4 linked regions of the Homo sapiens genome follow. The protein of the gene in region 1 interacts with the protein of each later gene in a pairwise test. Each region holds a gene or a part of one and is shown in the gene's direction. Other genes may lie near its edges. The genes, in order: ETFDH, MYH7B, TRIM69 and OTX1.

What was found.
Region 2: the proteins of ETFDH (region 1) and MYH7B interact in binary tests that used the Homo sapiens proteins (3 or more experiments, as listed by UniProt).
Region 3: the proteins of ETFDH (region 1) and TRIM69 interact in binary tests that used the Homo sapiens proteins (3 or more experiments, as listed by UniProt).
Region 4: the proteins of ETFDH (region 1) and OTX1 interact in binary tests that used the Homo sapiens proteins (3 or more experiments, as listed by UniProt).

Annotation. Positions count from the first base shown.
Region 1 is NC_000004.12:158,675,263-158,682,295, forward strand, and holds part of ETFDH (electron transfer flavoprotein-ubiquinone oxidoreductase, mitochondrial isoform 1 precursor), read left to right. Parts: intron 1-5,204; coding exon 5,205-5,345; intron 5,346-6,845; exon of another isoform or gene 6,846-6,932; coding exon 6,933-7,033. UniProt on the Homo sapiens protein: Accepts electrons from ETF and reduces ubiquinone.
Region 2 is NC_000020.11:34,993,835-35,000,867, forward strand, and holds part of MYH7B (myosin-7B), read left to right. Parts: intron 1-311; coding exon 312-567; intron 568-1,501; coding exon 1,502-1,744; intron 1,745-2,511; coding exon 2,512-2,688; intron 2,689-2,778; coding exon 2,779-2,924; intron 2,925-3,248; coding exon 3,249-3,339; intron 3,340-3,416; coding exon 3,417-3,806; intron 3,807-4,460; coding exon 4,461-4,587; intron 4,588-4,676; coding exon 4,677-4,795; intron 4,796-4,884; coding exon 4,885-5,081; intron 5,082-5,221; coding exon 5,222-5,571; intron 5,572-5,736; coding exon 5,737-5,861; intron 5,862-5,956; coding exon 5,957-6,072; intron 6,073-6,458; coding exon 6,459-6,855; intron 6,856-6,933; coding exon 6,934-7,033.
Region 3 is NC_000015.10:44,760,525-44,767,557, forward strand, and holds part of TRIM69 (E3 ubiquitin-protein ligase TRIM69), read left to right. Parts: intron 1-6,706; coding exon 6,707-7,033.
Region 4 is NC_000002.12:63,053,801-63,058,335, forward strand, and holds the end of OTX1 (homeobox protein OTX1), read left to right. Parts: intron 1-131; exon of another isoform or gene 132-246; coding exon 247-398; intron 399-1,700; coding exon 1,701-2,516; 3' UTR 2,517-4,031; downstream 4,032-4,535. UniProt on the Homo sapiens protein: Probably plays a role in the development of the brain and the sense organs. Can bind to the BCD target sequence (BTS): 5'-TCTAATCCC-3'.

The DNA of each region.
Region 1 (7,033 bases):
GAATATTTCCTGTACATGGAAGCATATACTATGTTGTCTTTTTGTGACTGGCTTCTTTCACATAGCATATTGTTTTCAAAGTTCTATGTGGTAGCATATATCAGTATTCAATTTCTTCTTATTGCTAAATATTTCATTATTTGGATATATCACTTCTTACCATTTATTGATCAACATTTGGGTTGTTTCTACTTTTTGGCTGTTATAAATAATTCAGCTGTTGGTCAGGTGTGGTGGCTTACACCTGGAATCCCAGCGTTTTGGGAGGCTGAGACGGGCATATTGCTCGAGCCCAGGATTTCGAGATCAGCTTACACAACCCAGTGAGACTGCTTGTCTACAAAAAAATAGAAACAATTATCCGGGCATGGTGGCATGCACCTGTAGCCCTAGCTACTCAGGAGGCTGAGGTGGGAGGATCACTTAAGCCTGGAAAGTCAAGGCTTCAGTGAGCCATGATCACATCACTGCATTCCACCCTTGGTGACAGAGTGAGACCCTGTCTCAAAAAAAAAAAAAAAAAGTCAGCTAGGAACATTCATGTGCAAGTTTTTGTGTAGAAGTATGTTTTCATTATCTTAGGGATAGACTTAGGAATGGGTCACATGAAAACTCTATGTTTAACCTTTTGAGGAACTGCCAGACTGTTTTTCAAAGAGACTGCATCATTTTTGCATTCCCCCAGGAGTGTATGAAGGTTCCAATTTTTCCACATCCTTGCTAACTCTTGTTATTGAAACCGCCCAACAGGTTCTCCTTGCCCACTACCCAGACAGAGCCAATTTATCAAAACAGGAGAATTAGAATAGAGAAAGAGTTTAATTCACACAGAGGCGGCTGTACAGGAGACCATAGTTTTATTACTCAAATCAGTCTCCCCGAAAACTTGGAGACTGGGGATTTTAAGGATAATTTGATGAGTAGGGGGGTCAGAAAGTGGGGAGTGCCAATTGGTCAGGTCAGAGGTGAAATCACAGGGAGATGAGTTTGTCGTCTTGCACTGAGTCAGTTCCAGGGTGGGAGCCAAACGACCAGATGAGCTAGTTCATCGATCTGGGTGGTGCCAGCTGATCCATCAAGTGCAGGATCTGCAAAATATCTCAAGTAGTGATCCTAGATTTTACAATAGTGATGTTATCCCCAGGAGCAATTTGGGAAGGTTCAGAATCTTGCCACCTCCAGCTGCATGACTCTTAAACCATAATTTCTAATCTTGTAGCTAATTTGTTAGTCCTGCAAAGACAGTCTGGTCCCCAGGAAGGAAGGGGGTTTGTTCTGGGAAAGGGCTGTGATTGTCTTTGTTTCAAAATTAAACTATAAACTCCCAAAGTTAGTTCAGCCTACTCCCAGGAATGAACAAGGACTACTTGGAGGTTAGAAGCAAGATGGAGTCAGTTAGGTCAGATCTCTTTCACTGTAATAATTTTCTCAGTTATAATTTTTGCAAAGGTGGTTTTATTATTGCTTGACTTCTCGACTATAGCCATGCTAGTGGATGTAATAGTACCTCATGTGGCTTTGGTTTGCATTTCCCTGATGGCTAATGCTGCTGAGCATCTTTTCATGTACTTATTGGCCGTTTGTATATCATCTTTGAAGAAGTGTCTATCCAGATCCTTTGCCCACTTTTTAATTGGATTATTTGTCTTTTGTTACTAGATATAAGAGTTCTTTCTGTATTCTAAATATAAGTCCATTATCGGATATATGATTTGAAAATATTTTCTCCCATTCCACGGGCTATCTTTTCACTTTCTTGATGGTATCCTTTGATGCACAAAAGGTTTTAATTTTGATGAAGTGCAGTTTAACTGTATTTTTTGTCGTTGCTTGTGTTTTTGGTTGTTCTATCAAAGAAACCATTGCCTAAACCCAAGTGTTGATGAAAAAGCCAAACTCCATAAACTATTTGAAGAGATTAATTCTGAGCCAAATGTGAGGACCATGACCCACGATACAGCCTCAGGAGGTCCTGAGAACATGTATCCAAGGTGGCTGGGTTACAGCTTGATTTTATACATTTTAGGGAGAAAAGTTACAGGCAAAGACATTAATCAATACGTGTAAGGTTTACATTGGCTTGGCCTGGAAAGGCAGGACATCTCAAAAGTTCACGAATTTGTGTTGGGCCACATTTAAAGGCATCCTGGGCAACATGTGGCCCATAGGCTGCAGGTTGGACAAGCTTGCCTTAAAAGGTATCAGACTCTTAGTTAAATCTCTCCTAGATCAGGAAAAGGCCTAGAAAGGGAAGAGAATTCTCCACAGAATGTAAATGTTCCTCACAAGAGACAGCTTTGCAGGGCCAATCCAAAAATTATGTCCAAGAAATATATTTTGGGGTACAATACATTGATTTCCTCTAGGGCCTGTTGTCATGTGATGTTATACCAGAGTCAGGTTGGAGTTGGTATCTTATTGCTACAAAGAGTCTGTTCTGTCAGTCTTAGGATTTCAATATTAATGTTAATGCTGGTCAGTTATGTCTAAACTCCAAAAGGGAGAGGGTATAATGAGGCATGTCTGACCCTCTACTTACCATCATGGCATGAACTACTTTTTTGGGTTTCTTTGGAATCCCCCTGGCCAAGAAGAGAGTCCATTCAGTGGTTGGGGGCCTTAGAATTTTGTTTTTGGTTTACACAAGGTCACAAAGATTTACACTCATGTCTTCAAAGAGTTTTATGGTTTTAGCAAATATAGGGTTTGATCTTTCTTGAGTTAACTTTTTTTATCACCATAATCTTTTTAACTTTTTATCTTGAAATAGTTTTAGATTTACAGATAAGTTGCAAAAATAGTACTGAGAGTTCCCATATGCCCTTTGCGGAGCTTCATGTCTTATGTAACCATAGTATAATTATCAAAACTAAGAAATTAACATTGATGAAATAAAGTTAATTAAACTACAGATTTTATTCAGATCTTCTTTTTCTGTTCCAGGATCCAGTCCAGGGCACAAGGTTGCCTTTAGTTGGCAGGTCTCCATAGTCTACTTCAATTTGACAGTTCCTCTGTCTTTTCTTGTGTCCCAAGACCTTTACAGTTTTGATATGTACTGGTCGAGCATTTTGTAGAATGTCCCTCAATCTGAGTTTGTCTGATCATTTCTCATGATTAGACTGAGGTTAAAGATTTTTGGGGATAAATACCACAGAGATAAAGAACCCTTTTCACCACATCATATCAGGGATACATGGTATCAATATGTCTTATTGCTGGTAACATTAAACTTGATCACTTGCTTAAAGTGATATCTGCCATATTTCTCTACTGTAAAGTTAACATTTTTCACTTTCCATTCTCTACTTGTTAGAAGCTACTCAATAAGTTCATCCCACATCACTCAAAGGGAGGAGAGAATTGAAGAATTTATGGATATATCACCATCTTTTTTTTTTTTTTTTGAGACAAGGTGCTTGTTGCCCAGGTTGGAGTACAGTGACGTGGTCCTAGCTCACTGTAGCCTCGAATTACTGGGCTCTAGTGATCATCGTACCTCAGCCTCCTGAGTAGGTGGGACTGCAGGTGCATACCACCACACCTAGCTAATTTTTTTACTTTTTATTTTTTATTTCTGTAGAGAAGAGGTCTTGCTATATTGCCTAGGAGGATCTTGAACTCCTGGCCTCATGCAGTCCTCCCGCCTTAGCTGAGATTTACAGTCATGAGCCACTGTGCCCAGCCAACCATAGTCTTCTATACTTTGAACCTACCCTAATAAAATCTTCGATCAAATATAATTCATTTTGACCTAGGGAGCAGAGTATACTTTTTTTCTGAATGGCTTTCTAGCTATCTCTGCACCATTTAATGAGTAACCATTTCTTCTCCCTAATTTGAAATGGTATCTTTATTATATACCATATACCTATGTGTATTCTATTTCTGAACTCTTTATTCTTTTTTTAATTATTCTATCCCTTCTCCTATAACAGACTTCTAATGAATATAGCTTCAAATATAAGTTTCTATATCTGTCAAGAGTGGTTTCATGGGAGGATTCTTTGTCTTTTTTTAATGATAGGGACGATTATCAAGATGAACAGAGCCTGAGAAGGGAGTCAAAATTGAAGCTCAGAAGGGATGGTATCAGATGGAGGAATGTCTCTAGACAACGGGAGAGATAAGCCTTCTCATCCAGCTAGAAAGATTAACCCCAGTGGAGAAGAATATAGTCTGTTTCACTATATTCATTGAGTACAATCAACGGGAGAAAAGACATCTCTTCTGCTATAAACTGAGATAATGAACAAAGTATGGGCACAAATACAGATTATATTAGAAGTTACTGCCAAGGAGTTGAGAAAATTCCCATCTAATTGCTTCTGTCTTTATGAGGTTTGATGCTAGGGTACCTGCCCTGGATAAAGGAAAGAAGAGGTGGAGTTGAAGGTTTGAGGACAACAGAGAAGGTTCAGTGAACATTTTTGCAGATAAATCTTTGCATATTTCTGTTCATTTCCATAAAATACTTTTTGCTGACTCAAAAATGTATACATTTTTAAGGATATCAGAAGATACTGTGGCCAGGTGCAGTGGCTCACGCCTATGATCCCAGCAATTTTAGAGGCTGAGGCAGGCAGATCACTTGAGGCCAGGAGTTCGAGACCAGCCTGGCCAACATGGCAAAACCGCATCTCTACTAAAAAAAAAAAACAAAAATCCAAAAATTAGCTGGGTGTGGTGGTGCACACCTGTAGTCCCAGATACTCTGGAGGCTGAGGCGTGAGAATCGCTTGAAACCAGGAGGCAGAGGTTGTGGTGAGCTGAGATTGCACCACTGCACTGCAGCCTGGGTGACAGAGTGAGACTCTGTCTCAAAAAAAAAAAAAAAAAGAAGAAGAAAAAGAAGAAGATACTGCCTTAAGAACCTGACCATAAAACAAAGTTTGTGCTTAAAGCCATTGACCTAACACGGTGATTATACTACTCCATATTACTCTCAAAGTGTTCAGCTTTCATGACTAATCCATAGTTAAGCCTGACATGAGCTAAATTGAATAAATTTGCTTATTAGTTTTAAAATATTTAAGATTTGAAAACATTGCTTTATGAGAAAAAGCTATTCAAAGTGTTCACCTAGGAAAGATTATAGTATATTTCACTATACTCATTGAGTATAGTCATTCACTTATATTTTTTCAGTCTACTGAGGAAAACTAATTTTAAGGAAGATAATAATTTTCGTAATTTTTGTGCAGCATATCAGTGCTTTCATGCCTTAAAAATTAAGAAAAATTATCTACCTCTATGTGCTACAAGATGGTCTTCAACTTCTACTGTGCCTCGAATTACTACCCATTATACTATTTATCCCCGGGATAAGGACAAGAGATGGGAAGGTAAGTAATAATTTGTGTACAATTCCTGAGACTTTTCTGGATACTTTGTTTTCATTTTGTGGAGGAGAGTATTAATATTTTTCATAATTTAAAAACATCTAATAATATTTTGTGGCTTTACCAAGTCACATGCTGCATAATGACCCTTCAGTCAACAACACGACAATTATAATGGTAATCCCTTGACATTATAATGGAGCTGAAAATTCCTATCACCTAGTGACATCTTTTAGAACATAGCTTCCAGACCATCGTAGCTCAACACATTACTCAATTATTTGTGGTGAGTCTGATGTAAACAAACATACTCTACTGCCAGTTCTTTAAAAGTCTACCATATACAATTATGTACAGTACATGATACTTGATAATAAACGACTGTTACTGGTTTATGTATTTACTGTATTATACTTTTATCATTATTTTAGAGTGTACTCTTACTTAATTTTTTTAAAAAGTTAACTGTAAAACAGACACAGGCAGGTCCTTCAGGAGGTATTCTGGAAGAAGCTACCATTTGCATAGGAGATGACAGCTCCATGCGTGTTATTGTCTTTGATGACCTTCCAGTGGGAGAAAATGTGGAGGTGAAAGATATTGATGATCCTGACCCTGTGTAGGCCTAACTAATGTGTGTGTTTGTGTCTTAATTTTTAATAAAAGAGTTTAAAAGGTAAAAGGAAAAAAAATTTTAAAAAGAAAGAAACTTATAGAAAAATGATATAAAAACCATTTTTTGTACAGCTGTACAATGTGTTTGTGTTTTAGCTAAGTGTTATTACAAGAGAGTCAAAAAGTTTAAAACATTTAAAAGCTTATAAAATAAAAACATTACTGTAAGCTAAGTTTAATTTACTGACGAAAAAATTTTTTTATAAATTGCGTGTAACCTAAGCATACAGTGTTTATGAAGTCTATAGTAGTGTAATGTCCTTGTCCTTCACATTCTCACTGCTCACTCAGTCACTCACCAAGAACAGCTTCCAGTCCTGTAAGTTCTATTCATGGTAAGTACCCTGTACAGATATACCATTTTTAAATATTTTATACTGTATTTTTGCTGTACTTTTTCTGTGTTTAGATGTGTTTAGTTACATACATACTATTATAGTTGCCTACAGTGTTCAGTATAGTCAGTCACATGCTATATAGCTTTGTAGCCTAGGAGCAATAGCCTATACCCTGTTGCCTAGGTGTATCATAGGCTGTTCAATTAGTTTGTGTAAGTATACTCTATGATGTTTGCAAAAGGGCAAAATTGCCTAACGATGCATTTCTCAGAAAGCATTTCTGTCATTAAGTGACTTGTGACTGTATTTTACACAAGTAAATATTTGCTAAATGTATAATAATAAATCTCAAAGCCAAGAATTAGTTTATGGAAACTGAAATAAAGTATGTACTGGAACAGAACCTAAGAATATAATCATACTAATACAGTAATATGCTTAATATAATTATTGTGCAAAACACAGGGAGAATTTCCATAAATAATACTCTAAAGCACAGTGGATATTTTTTAACTGTCATGTGATTTATCATGTGATTATTGGGTTATATTAATCCCAGAATTTTTATTTCTCCCAGGAGTGAACATGGAAAGGTTTGCAGAAGAAGCAGATGTTGTAATAGTTGGTGCAGGCCCTGCAGGGCTCTCTGCAGCTGTTCGTCTAAAACAGTTGGCTGTG
Region 2 (7,033 bases), on another chromosome or scaffold:
GCCCGTGTCAGAGATCCAGAGCTAGCTGGCACGTCAGCCCAGGCCGCTGACTCCAGAGCCCCGTGGCTTAACAGCCCTGGTGTCTTCCGGGAATTGCAGAGGCCACCAGGACATGGGGGGCTCATGAGCCCCTTCACTGGAGGCAGGCCTGTGGGACTGTGGGCCTCCCCTCACCCTCACCTATAAAGCAGAGCTATTAGGAGCTACTCCATGAGGCTGCTGGGAAGGCAAAACAAGTGAACTGTGCTGAGTGTCACCATTTGTGACGGGCAGCACTGAGCCACCTTCACAGCTTGGCTGCCCCTCCCTAGGGATGCGCTGTTCACCATCCAGTGGAACATCCGTGCCTTCAATGCCGTCAAGAACTGGTCATGGATGAAGCTCTTTTTCAAGATGAAGCCGCTGCTGCGCTCGGCGCAGGCTGAGGAGGAGCTGGCGGCCCTGCGGGCAGAGCTGCGGGGGTTGCGAGGGGCGCTGGCTGCGGCCGAGGCCAAGCGCCAGGAACTGGAGGAGACGCACGTCAGCATCACCCAGGAGAAGAATGACCTGGCCCTGCAGCTGCAGGCTGTGAGTCAGGGTTCCCCTTGTGACCGGGCGTCCCCAGCCCCGAGTACCCCTGGCTGCTCTGAGGGATAGTACAGCGAGACCCATGGGGCTCAGGCCTTATGTCTCTCTGTTCCAAAGATGCCATGAGATGAGGCCTCCATGTCCCAGCCTCACCACCCCAAGGCCTCGTCTGGCACGTTTCCTGGCACTCTCCCCTCGTGCCACCTTGGCCTCCCGCTAAAGCAGAGGAACCCCAGCTCCCCAGCTCTCCCCTCCCTGCAATCCCTGAAACCAAACAGACCCATGCTCTCTTCTCTGGTTAAGGGCCATGGGAACCCAGGTGGCAGGTAACAGGGTGATAGCCAGAGAGCACAGATCAAAGGTCTGGAATCTCCCCAGGTCCACAGAGCAAGCTTTCCTGCCTTCGGCACATGGCTTTGTGTATCAATTGTGTGCCAGGCTCAGGCTAGTGCAGGAGGAACGTTGGTGGGAAGACAGAGATGGCCCTGTGGTCACAAAACTCACCTGCTAGTGCAGGAGACTGTGACGCAGCTGGACAGTAAGGAAATGGGGGGTAAGGATACCTGAGCCCTTCCAGGGACTGCCTCCAGGAGCCCGTCCGTGGCTGTGCAGAGGCTGCTGCTGCTCACCCTGCCCCTCGGAAGGCCTCAGCCCAACAGCGGGGCAGTGAGCAGCGGGCTTCCCTCTCAGAACCCTTGTTTGGGCCTCACTCTGGGCCGCCCCGCACTTCTAACTTTCCCCTCTTAATGCTCTGGTGTGTCCCTCTGCGCTATTGCCCTTCCATGCCCAAGAGCGAGTCAAGACATTCCTGAGTTCTCAGAGCACAGCCAAACTTTGCTACAGAGGCAGTTTCCTCTCCAGGGCCTGGCCTGGTGTCTCTCTGCTGGTTTACCTGGCCCTCCCCCAACCTGGCCCCGTTCCGTGTGCCCTCCAGGAGCAGGACAACCTGGCAGATGCCGAGGAGCGCTGCCACTTGCTGATCAAGTCCAAGGTGCAGCTGGAGGGGAAGGTGAAGGAGCTGAGTGAGCGGCTGGAGGATGAGGAGGAGGTGAACGCTGACCTGGCCGCCCGCCGGCGCAAGCTGGAGGACGAGTGCACGGAGCTCAAGAAGGACATTGATGACCTGGAGCTGACACTGGCCAAAGCTGAGAAGGAGAAGCAAGCCACTGAGAACAAGGTGTGGGCCGGGCCAGCTGTGGGGAAGGGCCCTGAGCCAGGGGCCAGCTTTGGGGCCAGGTGGCTGCAGGTCCCACCCCGGCTCTGCTAAGCCTCTGCTTTCTGGCCCTGGGCATGTCACTGCCTTTCCTGGGCCTCAGTTTCTTTATCTGTCAAGTGGGGTTAGCAGCACTTACCCCATTAGGGTAGGTGGTGATGTGTGTAATTGGCCTTTACTGAGCACACGCTCCTAGGCCTTGCACACGGTAGGTGTTTAGCACATGCTGGCAATCCTCATCCATCCCGGAGTGCAAGCCCCTTGAGGGCAGGAACTCCATGTCCCCAGCTCGGCATCCCGCAGGTGACTTCTGCCCTTGAGCCCTCGTGATGGCCCCTGTGGTTCCCAGTGCTGGAGGAGGGACTCCATTACACAGGAGGGAAAGTGAGGCAGGGGTAGGCAGCTTAGGTTCTCACAGGTGCTCACTGAGGAAGCCGGGACTAGGAGGCAGCTGCCCTGAGCACATGCTAATACTGCACATGGCTGGCATCTGTGGATTTCTCACCAGGCCAGGTGTGGTGCTGAGCACTGCGGGTGCATCCACTCGTGAATCCTCATTACAACCCCATGAGGAGGGTCCTTCCCTCAGGCAGAAGCGGTGGAGGCTCGGAGTCAAGTGACTTGCCTGAGTCCCATAGCTGGAAGGGGCACTTGCTCTGACCTGGTGTGGTGTGGTGGCCGCTCAGAGTGCGGGGAAGGGCGTCCCCATTCTGGCCCTGGCCCTGGCACAGGTGAAGAACCTGACGGAAGAGATGGCTGCGCTGGACGAGTCAGTGGCCCGGCTGACCAAGGAGAAGAAGGCGTTGCAGGAGGCCCACCAACAGGCCCTGGGTGACCTGCAGGCCGAGGAGGACCGTGTGAGCGCGCTGACCAAGGCCAAGCTCCGGCTGGAGCAACAGGTGGAGGACGTGAGTCAGGGCCACCCCGAGACTGGGTGGCGGGGCCGGGGTGCCGGCTGGCTTGGGCCATGGCTGACCCCTGCTGTGCCTGCTCTGCAGCTGGAATGCTCCCTGGAGCAGGAGAAGAAGCTGCGCATGGACACGGAGCGGGCCAAGCGCAAGCTGGAGGGTGACCTGAAGCTGACGCAGGAGTCGGTGGCTGATGCTGCTCAAGACAAGCAGCAGCTGGAGGAGAAGCTCAAGAAGTAGGTGTGGTGGGGCAGCAGGTGGGGGCCTTCTGAGCCTGCACCTGGCCCTTGTTCCCTTCTGGATTCTTGTGGTTCCTGCGGCATTGCAGAGGTTAAGGGTGGGGGTTGACAGATGGGGCACTGGGGTGCAGGGGTAGTGTCTTGCCCTCCCTGTACTGAGGGCCCTAGCCAGGGTCCAGGGCTGAGGCCTCAGGGCCCAGTGCAGCAGGTGCATGGGGTGAGGTCCCTCAGGGCCTGAAGGGGACTGGGGGGCGTTATGGGGTCCCAGGCGGGTGGGTGGGAGTTAAGGCCTGTGCTGGCCACCCACTCTGTGGCTCCCAGGAAGGACTCCGAGCTGAGCCAGCTGAGCCTGCGGGTGGAAGACGAGCAGCTCTTGGGGGCCCAGATGCAGAAGAAGATCAAGGAGCTGCAGGTGCGTGGGGATCGGGTGGGTGAGGCCTGGGGTCAGAGGCCCACAGAGGTGACAGCTGCCCCACGTGCCCACCCCAGGCTCGGGCGGAGGAGCTGGAAGAGGAGCTGGAGGCAGAGCGGGCAGCCCGGGCCCGCGTGGAGAAGCAGCGTGCAGAGGCGGCGCGGGAGCTGGAGGAGCTGAGCGAGCGGCTGGAGGAGGCAGGCGGCGCATCCGCGGGGCAGCGCGAGGGCTGCCGCAAGCGGGAGGCGGAGCTGGGGAGGCTGCGGCGGGAGCTGGAGGAGGCGGCGCTGCGGCACGAGGCCACAGTGGCGGCACTGCGGCGCAAGCAGGCGGAGGGCGCGGCGGAGCTGGGGGAGCAGGTGGACAGCCTGCAGCGGGTGCGGCAGAAGCTGGAGAAGGAGAAGAGTGAGCTGCGCATGGAGGTGGACGACCTGGCTGCCAACGTGGAGACTCTGACCCGCGCCAAGGTGTCCGTGCCTTCCTCACCCCATACCCACCCTGACTTTAAACCAATCCCGATCCCAGCAGCCAATACTGTTCCCACACCAGCCTCCACCCAGTACCTTATCCTGAGCCCTGACCTCTTCACCTGGTACACAACCCTCATTTCTCAGCCTCCTACCAGTCCTGACCTTAAGCCGTGACTCCCAAGCCCTGTTCCCTGACTCCAGGTCATTTCTGATCCAGCATCTACTTCCAGCCTCAGACCCTTGAACCAGCAGTAGTTGTGACCCTAGCCCTTGACTCCTGAACTCTGACTTAATACCTGTCCTCTCTTCCTGTCCTGAACCCCAGCACCCTAGCCTTAACCCCTGACCTTTCTACCACATAATCCTGACAGCTGACCTCTGACCATTGTCCCCAGGTGACTCCGCAGCTACCATCCCAACTCTCACCCTGACCCACTGCCCTGGGACTGGCCCAGCCCTGTCAGTTCTGACACCTGTTAAGCCCAGCAGTAGAATCTCTTTCCCTGACTTTGAACTTGGGGCTCTGCTCTCCCTTTGATTCCTGGGCCCACATCTAGCTTACCAGTCTCTGATCCCAGATCCTGCCATCTGATGCACAAACTTGTTCTGACATCTAACTCCTGACCCCTGACTCCCAACCTGGGATCCTAGGCCAGTGCAGAGAAGCTGTGCCGGACCTATGAGGATCAGCTAAGCGAGGCCAAGATCAAGGTGGAGGAGCTGCAGCGGCAGCTGGCGGACGCAAGCACGCAGCGTGGGCGACTACAGACGGAAAGCGGTGAGGCTGGGGCTCAGCTGGCCACACCAGGCAGGGCTTTGGTGCAGCCCTCACCAGCCTGACCTGTCCGCTCGCCTCTTTGCCTGCAGGGGAGCTGAGTCGCCTGCTAGAGGAGAAGGAGTGTCTGATCAGTCAGCTGAGCCGTGGAAAGGCCCTGGCCGCCCAAAGCCTGGAAGAGTTGCGGCGCCAGCTAGAGGAGGAAAGCAAGGTGGGCTGGCACCGGTGACCATGGAGTGGGCAGGTGGGCACCAGAGCCACTGGGCTGCACTAACGCTGAGGTCACTGGTGTCCCTGCAGGCCAAGAGTGCCCTGGCCCACGCCGTGCAGGCTCTGCGGCACGACTGTGACCTCCTGCGGGAGCAACACGAGGAGGAGGCTGAGGCCCAGGCTGAGCTGCAGCGGCTGCTGTCCAAGGCCAATGCCGAGGTGGCCCAGTGGAGGAGCAAGTACGAAGCAGATGCCATCCAGAGGACCGAGGAGCTGGAGGAGGCCAAGTGAGTGCTTTGCTGGCCAGGCCACTGCCATGCAGAGCTTTATGCCTGTGCCTGAGCCCCGCTGAGGGTGGGTGAAGGGAGCTGCTGGGGCTGTTCTCCCTCCTTCCATGGTCCACACCTTGTCTGGTTCCATGGCCTAGAAAAAAGCTGGCACTGCGGCTGCAGGAGGCAGAGGAGGGCGTGGAGGCTGCCAACGCCAAGTGCTCATCGTTGGAGAAGGCCAAGCTGCGGCTACAGACAGAGTCAGAGGATGTAACCCTGGAGCTGGAGCGGGCGACCTCAGCAGCTGCTGCGCTGGACAAGAAGCAGCGGCACTTGGAACGGGCACTGGAGGAACGGCGGCGGCAGGAGGAGGAGATGCAGCGGGAGCTGGAGGCGGCACAGAGGGAGTCCCGTGGCCTGGGCACCGAGCTCTTCCGGCTGCGGCACGGCCACGAGGAGGCACTTGAAGCCCTGGAGACGCTCAAGCGGGAGAACAAGAACCTGCAGGGTAGGACCTGCCACACGCCAGGGCCAGGGTGCTGCCCTGGGGTCGGAGCAACTTTGAGTTATGGGGGTGCCCTGGTGGGGCCACCCTGGAATCAGGGGTGAGTGGAGTGACCTGGGTGGGAGTACAAGCCATGGGGGTGGCCTCTCAGCACCCTGTCCACTGCAGAGGAGATCAGCGACCTCACAGACCAGGTGAGTCTCAGTGGGAAGAGCATCCAGGAACTGGAGAAAACCAAGAAGGCGCTGGAAGGCGAGAAGAGTGAGATCCAGGCTGCACTGGAGGAGGCAGAGGTCAGGGGCTGGCTGCAGGGGTGGGTGGACACTGACCTGCTGCTCCACTGGCCATCCCCCCCCCCCACCCTACCCTGCCTGCTCTGTATCCACAGGGGGCCCTGGAGCTGGAGGAGACCAAGACGCTGCGGATCCAGCTGGAGCTCTCCCAGGTCAAAGCAGAAGTGGACCGGAAGCTGGCAGAGAAAGACGAGGAGTGCGCTAACCTGAGGTGTGTCCATCCTTCTCCCGTCCCCACCTCCCGAGAGCAGAAGGGGAGGGAAGCAGTGTGTACTCTGCTCTCTAGTCTGTCCCTCCCATGGGACTTTGAGGTCCGGGTTGCTGTCTCCATTCTAGCTGTGAACCTCGGAGATGCTAAAGGACTTGCCCAAAGTCACACAGTGGGGGTGGAGCCAGTCAGTCCACCTCTGTCTGCCTGGGCCTCACTCTTGTCCATGAACTTGCTCTGATGGGCCACAGGCAGTCACAAGAGACTTTAAATCGGGGAGGGGTGACTCATTTGTTCTCAAAATGGGTTCGTTTCCAACGGTCCTTGGGCATTTGTAAGGACAGGTATGCCCTTACGAGACCCCCTTTCATGCCACCCTCCTCCCATAGGCGCAACCACCAGCGAGCTGTGGAGTCCCTGCAGGCCTCCCTGGATGCAGAGACACGGGCCCGCAATGAGGCGCTGCGGCTCAAGAAGAAGATGGAGGGTGACCTCAACGACCTGGAGCTGCAGCTGGGCCATGCCACCCGTCAGGCCACAGAGGCCCAGGCTGCCACGCGGCTGATGCAGGCACAGCTCAAGGAGGAGCAGGCAGGGCGGGACGAGGAGCAGCGGCTGGCAGCTGAGCTCCACGAGCAGGCGCAGGCTCTGGAGCGCCGGGCCTCGCTGCTGGCTGCGGAGCTGGAGGAGCTGCGGGCTGCCCTGGAGCAGGGCGAGCGCAGCCGGCGACTGGCAGAGCAGGAGCTTTTGGAGGCCACCGAGCGCCTCAACCTTCTGCATTCGCAGGTGGGGACAGGAGTCCCTGGGGACAGAGCAGGTGCAGGCCTGCTGGCTGGCTGGCTCTGAGACTCCTCTTCCCCTCAGAACACAGGCCTCCTAAACCAGAAGAAGAAGCTGGAGGCGGACTTGGCCCAGCTGAGCGGGGAGGTGGAGGAGGCTGCACAGGAGAGGCGGGAGGCTGAGG
Region 3 (7,033 bases), on another chromosome or scaffold:
TATGGTTATTGATTTAATGAGAAATCACAAATATATCCCTGATTTAATGAAAAATCGCAAATTTTTCCAGGTAATTGACATTGAAGAAAAATCAACTATACTGAGATATAGTTAACATAGAGTAAAATTATCCAATTTTAAGGGCACAATTTGATGAGTTCTGATGTATATATACACTTAGGTAAACCTCTCCATAATCAAAATATAGAAGATTTTTATCACTCCAAAAAGTTCCTACATGCCCCTTTGAAATCAATCTCTTCCTTCTACTCTCAGCCTCTAACATTCACTGACATGTTTTATTTCACTTTAAATGTGTCTTTTCTAAATTTTTGTCTAAGTGATAGCATACATTATGTAGTGTTTTGTGTCTTCTGGTTTTTTTCACTTAGCATAATTTTTTTTTTTTTTGAGATGGAGTCTCGCTCTGTTGCCCAGGCTGGAGTGCAGTGGTGCCATCTCTGCTCACTGCAAGCTCTGCCTCCAGGGTTCATGCCATTCTCCTGCCTCAGCCTCCCGAGTAGCTGGGACTACAGGCGCCTGCCACCATGCCCGGCTAATTTTTTTATATTTTCAGTAGAGACGGGGTTTCACCCTGTTAGCCAGGATGGTCTCGATCTCCTGACCTCGTGATCTGCCCGCCTCAGCCTCCCAAAGTGCTGGGATTACAGGTATGAGCCACTGCGCCAGGCCGCATAATGCTTTTTGAGCACTTATGTTGTTCCATGTATCAATAATCATGATTATTTATTCAGTTTACTTATTCATTTCCCAGTTGATGGACATGGGGTAGTCCATGGTAGTTTTATCCATCCTGCAATTAGTGAAAATCCCAGTTTCTCTATATCCTTTCCAAAACTTGATATTGTCAATCTTTTTAATTTAAACCATTTTATTGAATGTATAGTAGTATCTTATTGTGGTTTTAATTTGTATATCTCTTGTTTTGGTGGGAGGGTGGGACAGAGTCTCACTCTGATGTCCAGGCTAGAGTACAGTGGTGCATCTCAACTCACTGCAACCTCTGCCTCCGAAGCTCAAGTGATTCTTGCGCCTCAGACTCCCCAGTAGCTGGAATTACAGGCGCGCACTGCCATGCCTAGCTAATTTTTGTATTTTTAGTAGAGATGAGGTTTTGCCATGTTGGCCAGGCTGATCTTGAACTCCTGGCCTTAAGTGATCCATCCACCTCAGCCTCCTAAAGTGTTGAAATTACAGGCATGAGCCGTGGTGCCCGGCTGCATATCCCTAATGAGCAATCCTGTTGAGCGTCCTTTCAGGTGCTTCCTTGCCATTCATATATTTTTTTGGTTGTGTTCAAACTTTTGTCTATATTTTTGTTAAATTGTTGTATTATTAAGTTGTAAAGGATACAAATCCTTTATCAGATATATGTTTCTTAAATATTTTTTCTCACTCCATGGCTTGCCTTTTCAATTTATTTTTATTTATTTATTTTTTTGAGATGGAGTCTCACTCTGTCACCCAGGCTGGAGTGTGGTGCAATCTCGGCTCACTGCAAGCTCCGCCTCCCAGGTTCACGCCATTCTCCTGCCTCAGCCTCCCAAATAGCTGGGACTACAGGTGCCCGCCACCACGCCCGGCTAATTTTTTTGCATTTTTAGTAGAGATGGGGTTTCACCATGTTAGCCAGGATGGTCTCGATCACCTGACCTCGTGATCTGCCCGCCTCGGCCTCCCAAAGTACTGGGATTACAGGCGTGAGCCACCGCACCTGGCCATCTCTGGCTAATTTTAGGACTTGCTTTTTGTCACTTGCTTCCATCAATTTGATTATACGTGGTCTTGGTGTGATTTTCTTTGTATTTATTCTGCTTGTGCGTCATTGAGCTGCTTGGATCTAAGGGTTTATAATTTTCATCAAATTTTGAATAATATCAGCTGGTATTTCTTCAAATACTTTTTTACCAACCCCTTTTCTCCTCTCCTTCTTGGAGTCTAATTTTACATATTTTAGACAACTTGATATTGTCAAGTTGTCTCATGTCATCGATATTCAGTACTTTTTTAGCCTTTTTTCACCTCACACTTTATTTTAAATGGTTTCTATTGTTATTCAAGTTCTCATCTTTTCTTCTGCATGGTCTAACCTTCTGTTAATATTGTTCAAGATATTTTCATTTTATATACATTTCATTTCTAGAAGTTTCATTTGGGTCTTTTTATATCTTTCTTATCTCTTCTCACCATGTTCATGCCTTCCTCTACATTCTTGAAAAAATGGAAGACATTTATCCATTTTAATATCCTTGTCTGCTAATTCTATCATCATTGTCATTTCTGGGCCTGATTTTATTGTTTGATTGTTCTCCTGAGAGTCATATTTTCCTGCTGCTTTGTATGGCTAGTAATCTTTTTCTTTTTAATGGGCTTTATTTTTTAGGACACTTTTAGATTTTTTAATTTTACAGAAAAACTGAGAAGATAGTATAGAGTTTTTTATATGCCCCATCCTCACTTTTCTCTATTATTAACATCTTAGATTTAACATTTTTAACAACTAATGAACCAAATTGATACATTATTAACTGAAATCCATAGTTCCTTTAGATTTTCTTAGTTTTTACCTAATGTCATTTTTCTGTTTTAGGTTTCCATCTAAGGTGCCACATTACACTAAGTTGTCATTTTCTTTAGGTGCCCCTTGGCTGTGACAGTTTCTCAGGCTTGCCTTATTTTTTATGACTTAGATAGTTTTGAGGAGTACTGGTCATATATTTTGTAAGGATGCTGCACTATTGCAATTTGTTTGATGTTTTCCTCATAAAATTTGGGTTATTAATTGGGAGAGGAAGACAGTAGCATTAAAGTGTCATTGTCATCACATCACATTAAGTGTTCATACCGTCAACATGATTTATGACTATTGATGTTGACTTTAATCACCTGGCTGAGGAAGTGTCTGTCAGGTTTCTCCACTGTACTCTTTTTCCCTCCTTCTATACTTGTATACTTTGGAAGGCAGTCATTGTGCACAGCCCACGCTTAAGGAGGGGATAGTTATGCTCCCTCTCCCTGAGGGTAGTGTATTAATGTAAATTATTTGAAATTTTGCTGCCCTGGAGATTTGTCTCTTCTGGTTGGTAATTTTTTACTGGATGCCAAATATGATGAATTTCATATTGTTTGTACTGATGAATTCATATTGGTGAATTTTGTATTTGCTGGATTTTGTTGTAGTTCTTTCAGTTCTATTGAATTTAACTCTGGCATGCAGTTAACATGGTATGACATCATTTTGTTCCTTCTGAGGCTTAAATAAAGCCTAGTTAGAGTGGCTCAAGAGCAGCCTTTAATCTAGGGCTAACTTAGCCCATTTTCTAAAGTAATATACCCTTCTGATTACCCTACCTGACGTTGACATATTACGACATTTTTCCATTCTGGTTGGCAAGATTGAAAATTATTCCCAGCCTTGTGTGAGCTCCAGAAATTGTTCAGTCTATTGATTTCTGGAGGTTCTTTCTCTGGCCTTGACGAGTTTCACTGCATGCATGTGCAGATTAGTACTCAGCCACAGCCTTGAGAGAATCCCTTTGTAGATGTTTGTAAGTTTCTGTGAAGTTCCCTCCTCTGTGTTACTCTGCTTAGCAAATTGTAGCTGCCTTGGTATGACAGAGTTTTTCTTCCTGTATACTTTGCTCTGTAAAGCCAAACTTCACTTCTAGCAATCTTTTAAAATGCAAACTGATTTTTAAATTTTTGGTATAATTTTACATCAAGAAAACCAAATGAGATTTATTTAATATATGACTATTTATTAATAATGTATTATTTATCCATATACTCTCCCTCTATACAGAGTGGGAAATTGTTTTTCTATGGTAACTGTGGTCAGACCTTTGTAAAATATATTCCATACTTTTTATTTCTAAGTCTTTGCTTATTTTGTAGATCCATATATTCTCCTTTTCTGCCAGCCTTATAAATTAGGCTGTTGCTTTAGAGCAGGAGCTGGCACTTTTCTGTAAAGGTTTGAAGAGTAAATATTTTAGGCCTTGCAGGTGTATGGTCTTTGTTGCTGCTACTTAACTCTGCTCTTGTAGTGAAAAAGAAGCTACAGACAACATATAAATGAATGGTCATAAATGTGCTCCAATAAAACTTTACTTACAAAGTAGGCAGTGGGTCAGATTTGACCTGTTGGTTGTAGTTTGCCTACTCTAGCTTAGGGAATTTTTCAATTTAAAATATTTGCATGAACAAATGCCCAAATAATGTGGAGTGAACCATATGGGGAAAAAGCATTCTAGGACAAGGGAAGAAATTATAAGGACCCTGAAGTAGGAATGATCTTCATTATGTTCAAGGAACTGCCAAAAGACAAGGGTGGATGAATCAAAGTAAATGAGGGAAAGTGTGGTAGGAGATGAAGTAGAGAGGTAGGTAAATCATGTGGCTCTTTTTTCCTCTATAAGGACTCTGGATTTTATCTCAGATGTGATGGTAAACATAAGAGTATGCTGAGCAGGGAAATGGCTTGATCTCATTCATGATATGTGTAGAATAGGGTGCAGATGGGCAAGAGAGGAAACAGAAGAGTAAAAAGCTATTGCAGTAGTTCCAGGCCAGTGATATTTCTGGAAGTAGTCAGAAGTGTTTGGGCACAAGATATATTTTGAAGGTGGAGCTGACAGAACTTTTCGTTATATGAACGTGGCATGAGAAGGAAAGAGAGGACAAAAAGCTGACTCATGGGAATCTTCAGAGCCAGTGCAGGCTGAACTAGCTAGAGATGTGTCAGAGGCTTAGCAAAGAGAGCAGAGTGGGATTCCAAAACGTTGCTAAAAAGTCTTTATGGTACCTCCAAAGAAAACCCAGTCCTCACATCAGAAAGATTAACAACCCAAAGTGAATGGGGATATGTAAGGGGATAGGGATTTAGCCTATATGGAAAAATTCAAGATTCTTAATTCTTCAAAGCCTCTTGTTGGAAAGAGAAGTCCCTGGGATAATGGAAAAGACTCAGGCTTTTCTGAGAAGATAGAGTTAGACTAGAGTTCATGACTAGCCTGGCCAACATGGTGAAATCCTGTCTCTACTAAAATTACAAAAAATATCAGCTGAGCGTGGTGGTGCATGCCTGTAATCCTAGCTACTCAGGAGGCTGAAGCAGGAGAATTGCTTGAACCCAGGAGGCGGAGGTTGCAGTGAGCCGAGGTTGTGCCACTGCACTCCAGCCTGGGGGACAGAGCAAGAATCTATCTCAAAAAAAACAAAACAAAACAAACAAACAAACAAAAAAAAAACAGAGAGAGAGAAACTAGATTGATTCTGCTTCCAAGGATAAATAAATCCAATAACAACAAATGCATGCATACATGTATCTGTGTCCATGGTGTGCACACACATAGCTATTAGGTCTCCTTTATCAAATTTCATGTCAAGGTCCAATGATCTCACATCTGGAATTTGTGTCATCCTCTTGCTGGTCAGCTTTCAACCTCTCTTCATTTAGTTTAGATATTCTTTTTTATACTGCTGCCCTTTGAATTGTCTAAACCAATGCTTGTAAAATTATCTGTGATGAAGGGCCAATCAAAAAAATCTCAATCTGTCATGGACTGATACTTTTGTAGAATACAATATAAATTACTTGAAAAAGTAAAATTAAAAAAAGCAAAGATTACAAAGTACAAGCCCAATTTTGTAATTATTAGATTCAACTGACATAAAATTACTGTCAATTTGCTATGAAAGTTTTTAAAAGTTTACTGTTAATTTCTATACTATCTTTGTCCGAGACTGTTAACCACATGGTATGTGGACCACATTATGAGTAGCAATGACATAAACCACTCTAGATCTCAAAAATCTCATTATCTGTTAAACCAAAATAAACCTCTCACTATTGTCCTCTAAACTCTGTACCAGTTAGTTCAGTCTTGCCTGTGTCTAACAGGCAAGCTCTTGTGTTCTCTTCCACACAGGGGACTGTTTTTAATCCATTTCTTTCTTTCCGTTTATTCAAAACATCCTAAATACATCTCATGTATATACAACTGAATACTTACCTTCCTCAGAAAGCTTTCCTAGAACATCCTTACCTAATTTTTACCCCTTTGGCATTTGTATTTTCTTATATTTATTAGTATAGGTTTATATTATTTGTATTGTTTCCTTTAGTAGAGCATAAATTACTTCTGAGTAAACCCTGATTTTTACCCTAAATATAAAAATGTCTAGAATATAGTAACATGGATACCCAAACAATAAAAAGCATGTAAGTGGCCAGGTGCGGTGGCTCATGCCTGTAATCTCAGCACTTTGAGAGGCCTAGGCAGGTGGGTTGCTTGGGGCCAGGAGTTCAAGGCCAGTCTGGCCAACATGGCGAAACCCTGTCTCTACTAAAAAATTACAAAGATTAGCCAGGTGTGGTGGCACACACCTGTAATCCCAGCTATTTGGGGGGCTGAGGCACGAGAATTGCTTGAACCCAGGAAGCGGAGGTTGCAGTGAGCCGAGATCGCACCACTGCACTCCAGCCCTGGGCAACCTTGTCTGCCTCAAAAAAAAAAAAAAAAAAAAAAAAAAAAAAAGCATATAAGTAATTGCTTGCCTGTCTAAGAGTCTATGTGTATGGGGAGATAAAGTACTATTGAATATGAAATACTATCTTTTACTGTGGGAATTTGTGTTTACCCCCCTTTCTCCCATGCTCTGCTTTCTTTTATTTTCTTACTAGGCCTGTCTCCACTAACTCTGGACCCTAAAACAGCTCACCCAAATCTGGTGCTCTCCAAAAGCCAAACCAGCGTCTGGCATGGTGACATTAAGAAGATAATGCCTGATGATCCTGAGAGGTTTGACTCAAGTGTGGCTGTACTGGGCTCAAGAGGCTTCACCTCTGGAAAGTGGTACTGGGAAGTAGAAGTAGCAAAGAAGACAAAATGGACAGTTGGAGTTGTCAGAGAATCCATCATTCGGAAGGGCAGCTGTCCTCTAACTCCTGAGCAAGGATTCTGGCTTTTAAGACTAAGGAACCAAACTGATCTAAAGGCTCTGGATTTGC
Region 4 (4,535 bases), on another chromosome or scaffold:
AACCTCTGAGAGGCATAGAGAGGGGCAGCCCTCGAATCTTGGAGACACTGGCTTCTAGTCGCACATCTGCACTTTCTCCCACCTGTGGCCTCTCAGGCTCGGCCGCCCGAGGGAGTTTCTTTTATTCCCAGTTCGGCTTTCTTTTGCGAAGGCCGAGATCTGGGCCTGCCAGGGGCCTGCCCGAGTCCTCTATCGCGGGTCCACGTGGCCACCAATGACCCGCGGCGCCCCCGCGTGTCCCCGCAGCCACTCCGCGGAAGCAGCGGCGGGAGCGCACCACCTTCACGCGTTCACAGCTGGACGTGCTCGAGGCGCTCTTCGCCAAGACTCGCTACCCTGACATCTTCATGCGGGAGGAGGTGGCGCTCAAGATCAACCTGCCGGAGTCTAGAGTCCAGGTGCGCACTCCCCGGGCTCCAGGGTCTGGGTAGGGGAGCTGAGGCTGCTCGGGGAAGGTCTAGGAAGGCTCTTGAGTAGTTCTTGAGGAGACCATCCTGTGGGGGTGGGCTTACAGACTGGGCAGCCGCTCTCGGACTCCCCCTAGCGCTGGGCCCCAGCCAGGAAAGGGGGCAAAAGTTAAAGGAAATGGCTTAGAGCCCTGGATTCCGCCTTTAGCCCTAGGGCGCCTTCGGTGTCGGTATCGAAAGTACTTTTTAGAATTGCCGGAGGACTAGGGAAGCTCCCGAATGTAAAGCGCCCTGCGGGCCTGACACTTGCCCCTGCTTCTTCGCCTGCCCCAGGACTTGGCAGTTTCCCTTAGAGGCCTGAATTCTGCCTCTGCCCTTGTCTTCCACCCCGGGAATCCTAGAAATGGAAGAGCGGAGATTGGCTGGAGCCTGGTGCTCTGCCTGGGTCTCATTAGACGCTTCCTCTGCTTACAGAGGATGCTAAGTGCAAAATCCTGCTGCCGGCTTTCTTATTTCTGTTTTTGAGATGAAAGGGTTCCGATGATAACGTTCGGATTCTAACTCAGAACTCTCCTCAAGAGTCTCGCCTCCTTTACTCGAAAGCTTGAGAAGGGGGACCAGGAATGCAGTGCCATGTGCTGGGGCTCTCCTAGAAGAGTAACCATTCCATTTGGTTCCCCACCTGGAGCCAAAGGGCCAACGAAATCCCACCCAGGCTTCCTTCCCGAGTCCCTCAAGTACTACCTCTGTTTAGCCTCTGGCCTTGCTCCTACCCCCACCCAAATACTCGCCCTGCCCAGTTCTGGCCTCCAGGAGCTGCTCAGTGAAACGGCTCAGGCCCTAGACTTGGTGACTGTTCCACACTCTTCGGCTCTGTACCTCTCCACTGTTGCCTGAGCTCTGTTAGTAGAAAACTGGGCCTCCAAACACACACGGGGCCTCCAAACATACACGGAAGCAGCCAACAGCAGCAATTTAGAGATGGCAGAACTTCTGACTGGGCAGACTGAAATATTCCGCCCTAGGGCAGAGTTGCGGTAGGGGTGGGGAGGTGCGCATCCCTGCTCTGGAGCCAGCTGAGGAGGGGCTTTGAGCAGAAGGATGGGGGAGGGTGGAGGAGCTGGGAACCGAGGTAGGGGGCAGGGTCTGGCCAGGCCAGAGACAGGAAGGGGCGGAGGCCTCGGTGAGAAAGGATTGCGATATTCTGGACCGGGAGTTGGGTCCGCGGGGCGGTGGAGCAACAAGCTCCCCTAGCTCCCTTTGACCCACTCTCCCCCATCCGGCCCACTGCAGGTCTGGTTCAAGAACCGCCGCGCCAAATGCCGCCAGCAGCAGCAGAGCGGGAGCGGAACCAAGAGCCGCCCAGCCAAGAAGAAGTCCTCTCCAGTGCGGGAGAGCTCGGGCTCCGAAAGCAGTGGCCAATTCACGCCGCCAGCTGTGTCCAGCTCTGCCTCGTCCTCTAGCTCGGCGTCCAGCTCTTCCGCCAACCCAGCGGCTGCAGCGGCTGCGGGACTAGGTGGGAACCCGGTGGCGGCCGCGTCGTCGCTGAGTACACCAGCTGCCTCATCTATCTGGAGCCCGGCCTCCATCTCGCCAGGCTCAGCGCCCGCGTCCGTGTCGGTGCCGGAGCCATTGGCCGCGCCTAGCAACACCTCGTGTATGCAGCGCTCCGTAGCTGCAGGCGCCGCCACCGCAGCAGCCTCTTATCCCATGTCCTACGGCCAGGGCGGCAGCTACGGCCAAGGCTACCCTACGCCCTCCTCTTCCTACTTTGGCGGCGTGGACTGCAGCTCATACCTAGCGCCCATGCACTCACATCACCACCCGCACCAGCTCAGCCCCATGGCACCCTCCTCCATGGCGGGCCACCATCATCACCACCCACATGCGCACCACCCGTTGAGCCAGTCCTCAGGCCACCACCACCACCATCACCACCACCACCACCAAGGCTACGGTGGCTCTGGGCTTGCCTTCAACTCTGCCGACTGCTTGGATTACAAGGAGCCTGGCGCCGCTGCTGCTTCCTCCGCCTGGAAACTCAACTTCAACTCCCCCGACTGTCTGGACTATAAGGACCAAGCCTCATGGCGGTTCCAGGTCTTGTGAGCCCAGGAATGAAAGAGGAGAAGAAACGCAACTACCTGCGCCCTCCGTGGTCCCGATCCTGTTGCTGCTGCTGCACCGCCCGCCTTTGCCTCGTCTTCTCCAAAACTGAATTTTCACCCCCCAAAAAGATGTCCATTGCCTGCACTGCCGCCCCCATTTTTGTGCCACTTGCTTGGGGGGATGTGCAAACCCACCCTGCCCCTTGGATGGGGGGACCGGTGCTTCGGCTTGGCCTACACATTCTATACAGGAGAGATGTATTATTTCCCCCCTTCAGCCCCTACTAAACTCTTAAGCCTCCCCTTCCAGTCTTTCTGGACAGCTATTAAGCACTTGCAGCCTTCGGAGGCTCTGCGCTCTGATCCGCTGTTTGAGCCCAACACTTTAATTTATTCTTTCTGGACACTGGAGTCACTAACTGGCGTGTTTCTGCCCATTGGAGCACCCGCACACTACTCCAAATCAAAACCACTAAGAGTTCCTCCCGCGCAGACTGCTGCCCCTTCAGCTGCCCTCGATTTTGCTCCACGCCTGCCGGCCAGAGCCTCCCGGCGTTTCTTCCGCCCCAGCGGAGTGCGCTGGGGCGCGCCAGGGCTAGGCCCGCCGGAGGAGCGCGTCCCCAGCCTTCCGCGCACAGAGCCGCATCCCGCCCCGCCCTGCGCTGGACTGGTTCAAGCTTCCGCCTCGGCGGGAACGCTGTACATAGTCAGGTCCGTTCCAGGGACCACTTAAACTTTTTAGTTGCTGTTGGTTGGTTGAACTGAACATATCTTGTCTTAGCACCCAGGAAACAGAACTTTAAGATATATACAGCACATATATATATATATACATATATATATACACATATATAAAAAACAAAAGCAAAAAATATTTTCCCTCTGTCCGTCCCCCTTCTGCTCTTCCTCAATCAATGGCGCTTTTTCTTTTTCAGTTGTTGCAAAGCTGCCCTGCCCTCTTCACATCTTCTCCCTCTGTGTATTTATTGAAGAGAACCGCTTGGTTTCAGGAAGCTGGGCGCGGGATATCCGAAGTGTGGAGGAAACAGACAAGTCAGGGTACAGAGGTGGGGGTTGGGCAGGGGCGCAGGGCTGACCCCCTCACCCGGTCTAAGCACAGGGTCGCAGTTCCAGTTTACAAACCTAAAACAAGAAAACCAAAACCAGGGAACAAAACAACAAAACAAAACAAAATCCGTAAAAGTACAGCATTAGGGAAAAACAAACAAACCCAGGCCCCAAACCCAGTTCCAACTCCTCTGTCGGCTTCTCTCTTTCAACACCCTTGTTTTGTCTAGTGAGTTTTTAGTGCACCTTCGTTCTCCGAAATCTGCGGAGAGCCCGCGCGCCTGTGTATCAATTTTGGCTTTGGCCGCTTCGTCCAGTAGGTGGGAAAGTAATTTGTAAATTTGATTTGTCTGATGTGAAGATCACAAATTACTTGTTGAAATGTAAGGCAGTCCCCCTCCTCCTCTTTATCTACATTACTTCCCGAAAATAAATGCAAATTAATGAACGGCTTGTCAGTGTTGCTCTTCTGATTCCAGCCCGAGGTCCTGGTCTCGGGGGGCTAAAAGCGAGGGAAACTCCGTGTTAATAACCCGCGTGTTAATGACCTGCGTGAAGCTGGAGGCCAAAGGATGAGGCGGGAGGACTTGGCAAGAGAAGTCCCCAGAAACTTTCGCTTAGGGAGTGTCTCCCCCCACCCCCACCACGCCCCTCCGCGTCAGCCTGGCCTCTTCCCCCAGGCGTTTTGACCCCGCATCCCCCCTCGCCATCCAGGACAGAGACAGGTGTCAGGACTCAATTCCCGAAGCAATTCCTTTCTCTTCAGAGGCAGGAGCCTGGCACTGATTTCTTCACCCTAATTGCCTGCACCAGAAAGAAGAGGGGGAGGGGAAGAGGGTCGGGAGGCGGGAAAGGATAGCTCTGTAATGCTCTCAGAGCTGAGCCAAAAAGGAAAAGAAAGCAAAACGACAAAAAACTGATCCGTGTCCTGCATGTTGGCAGCAGACAACCT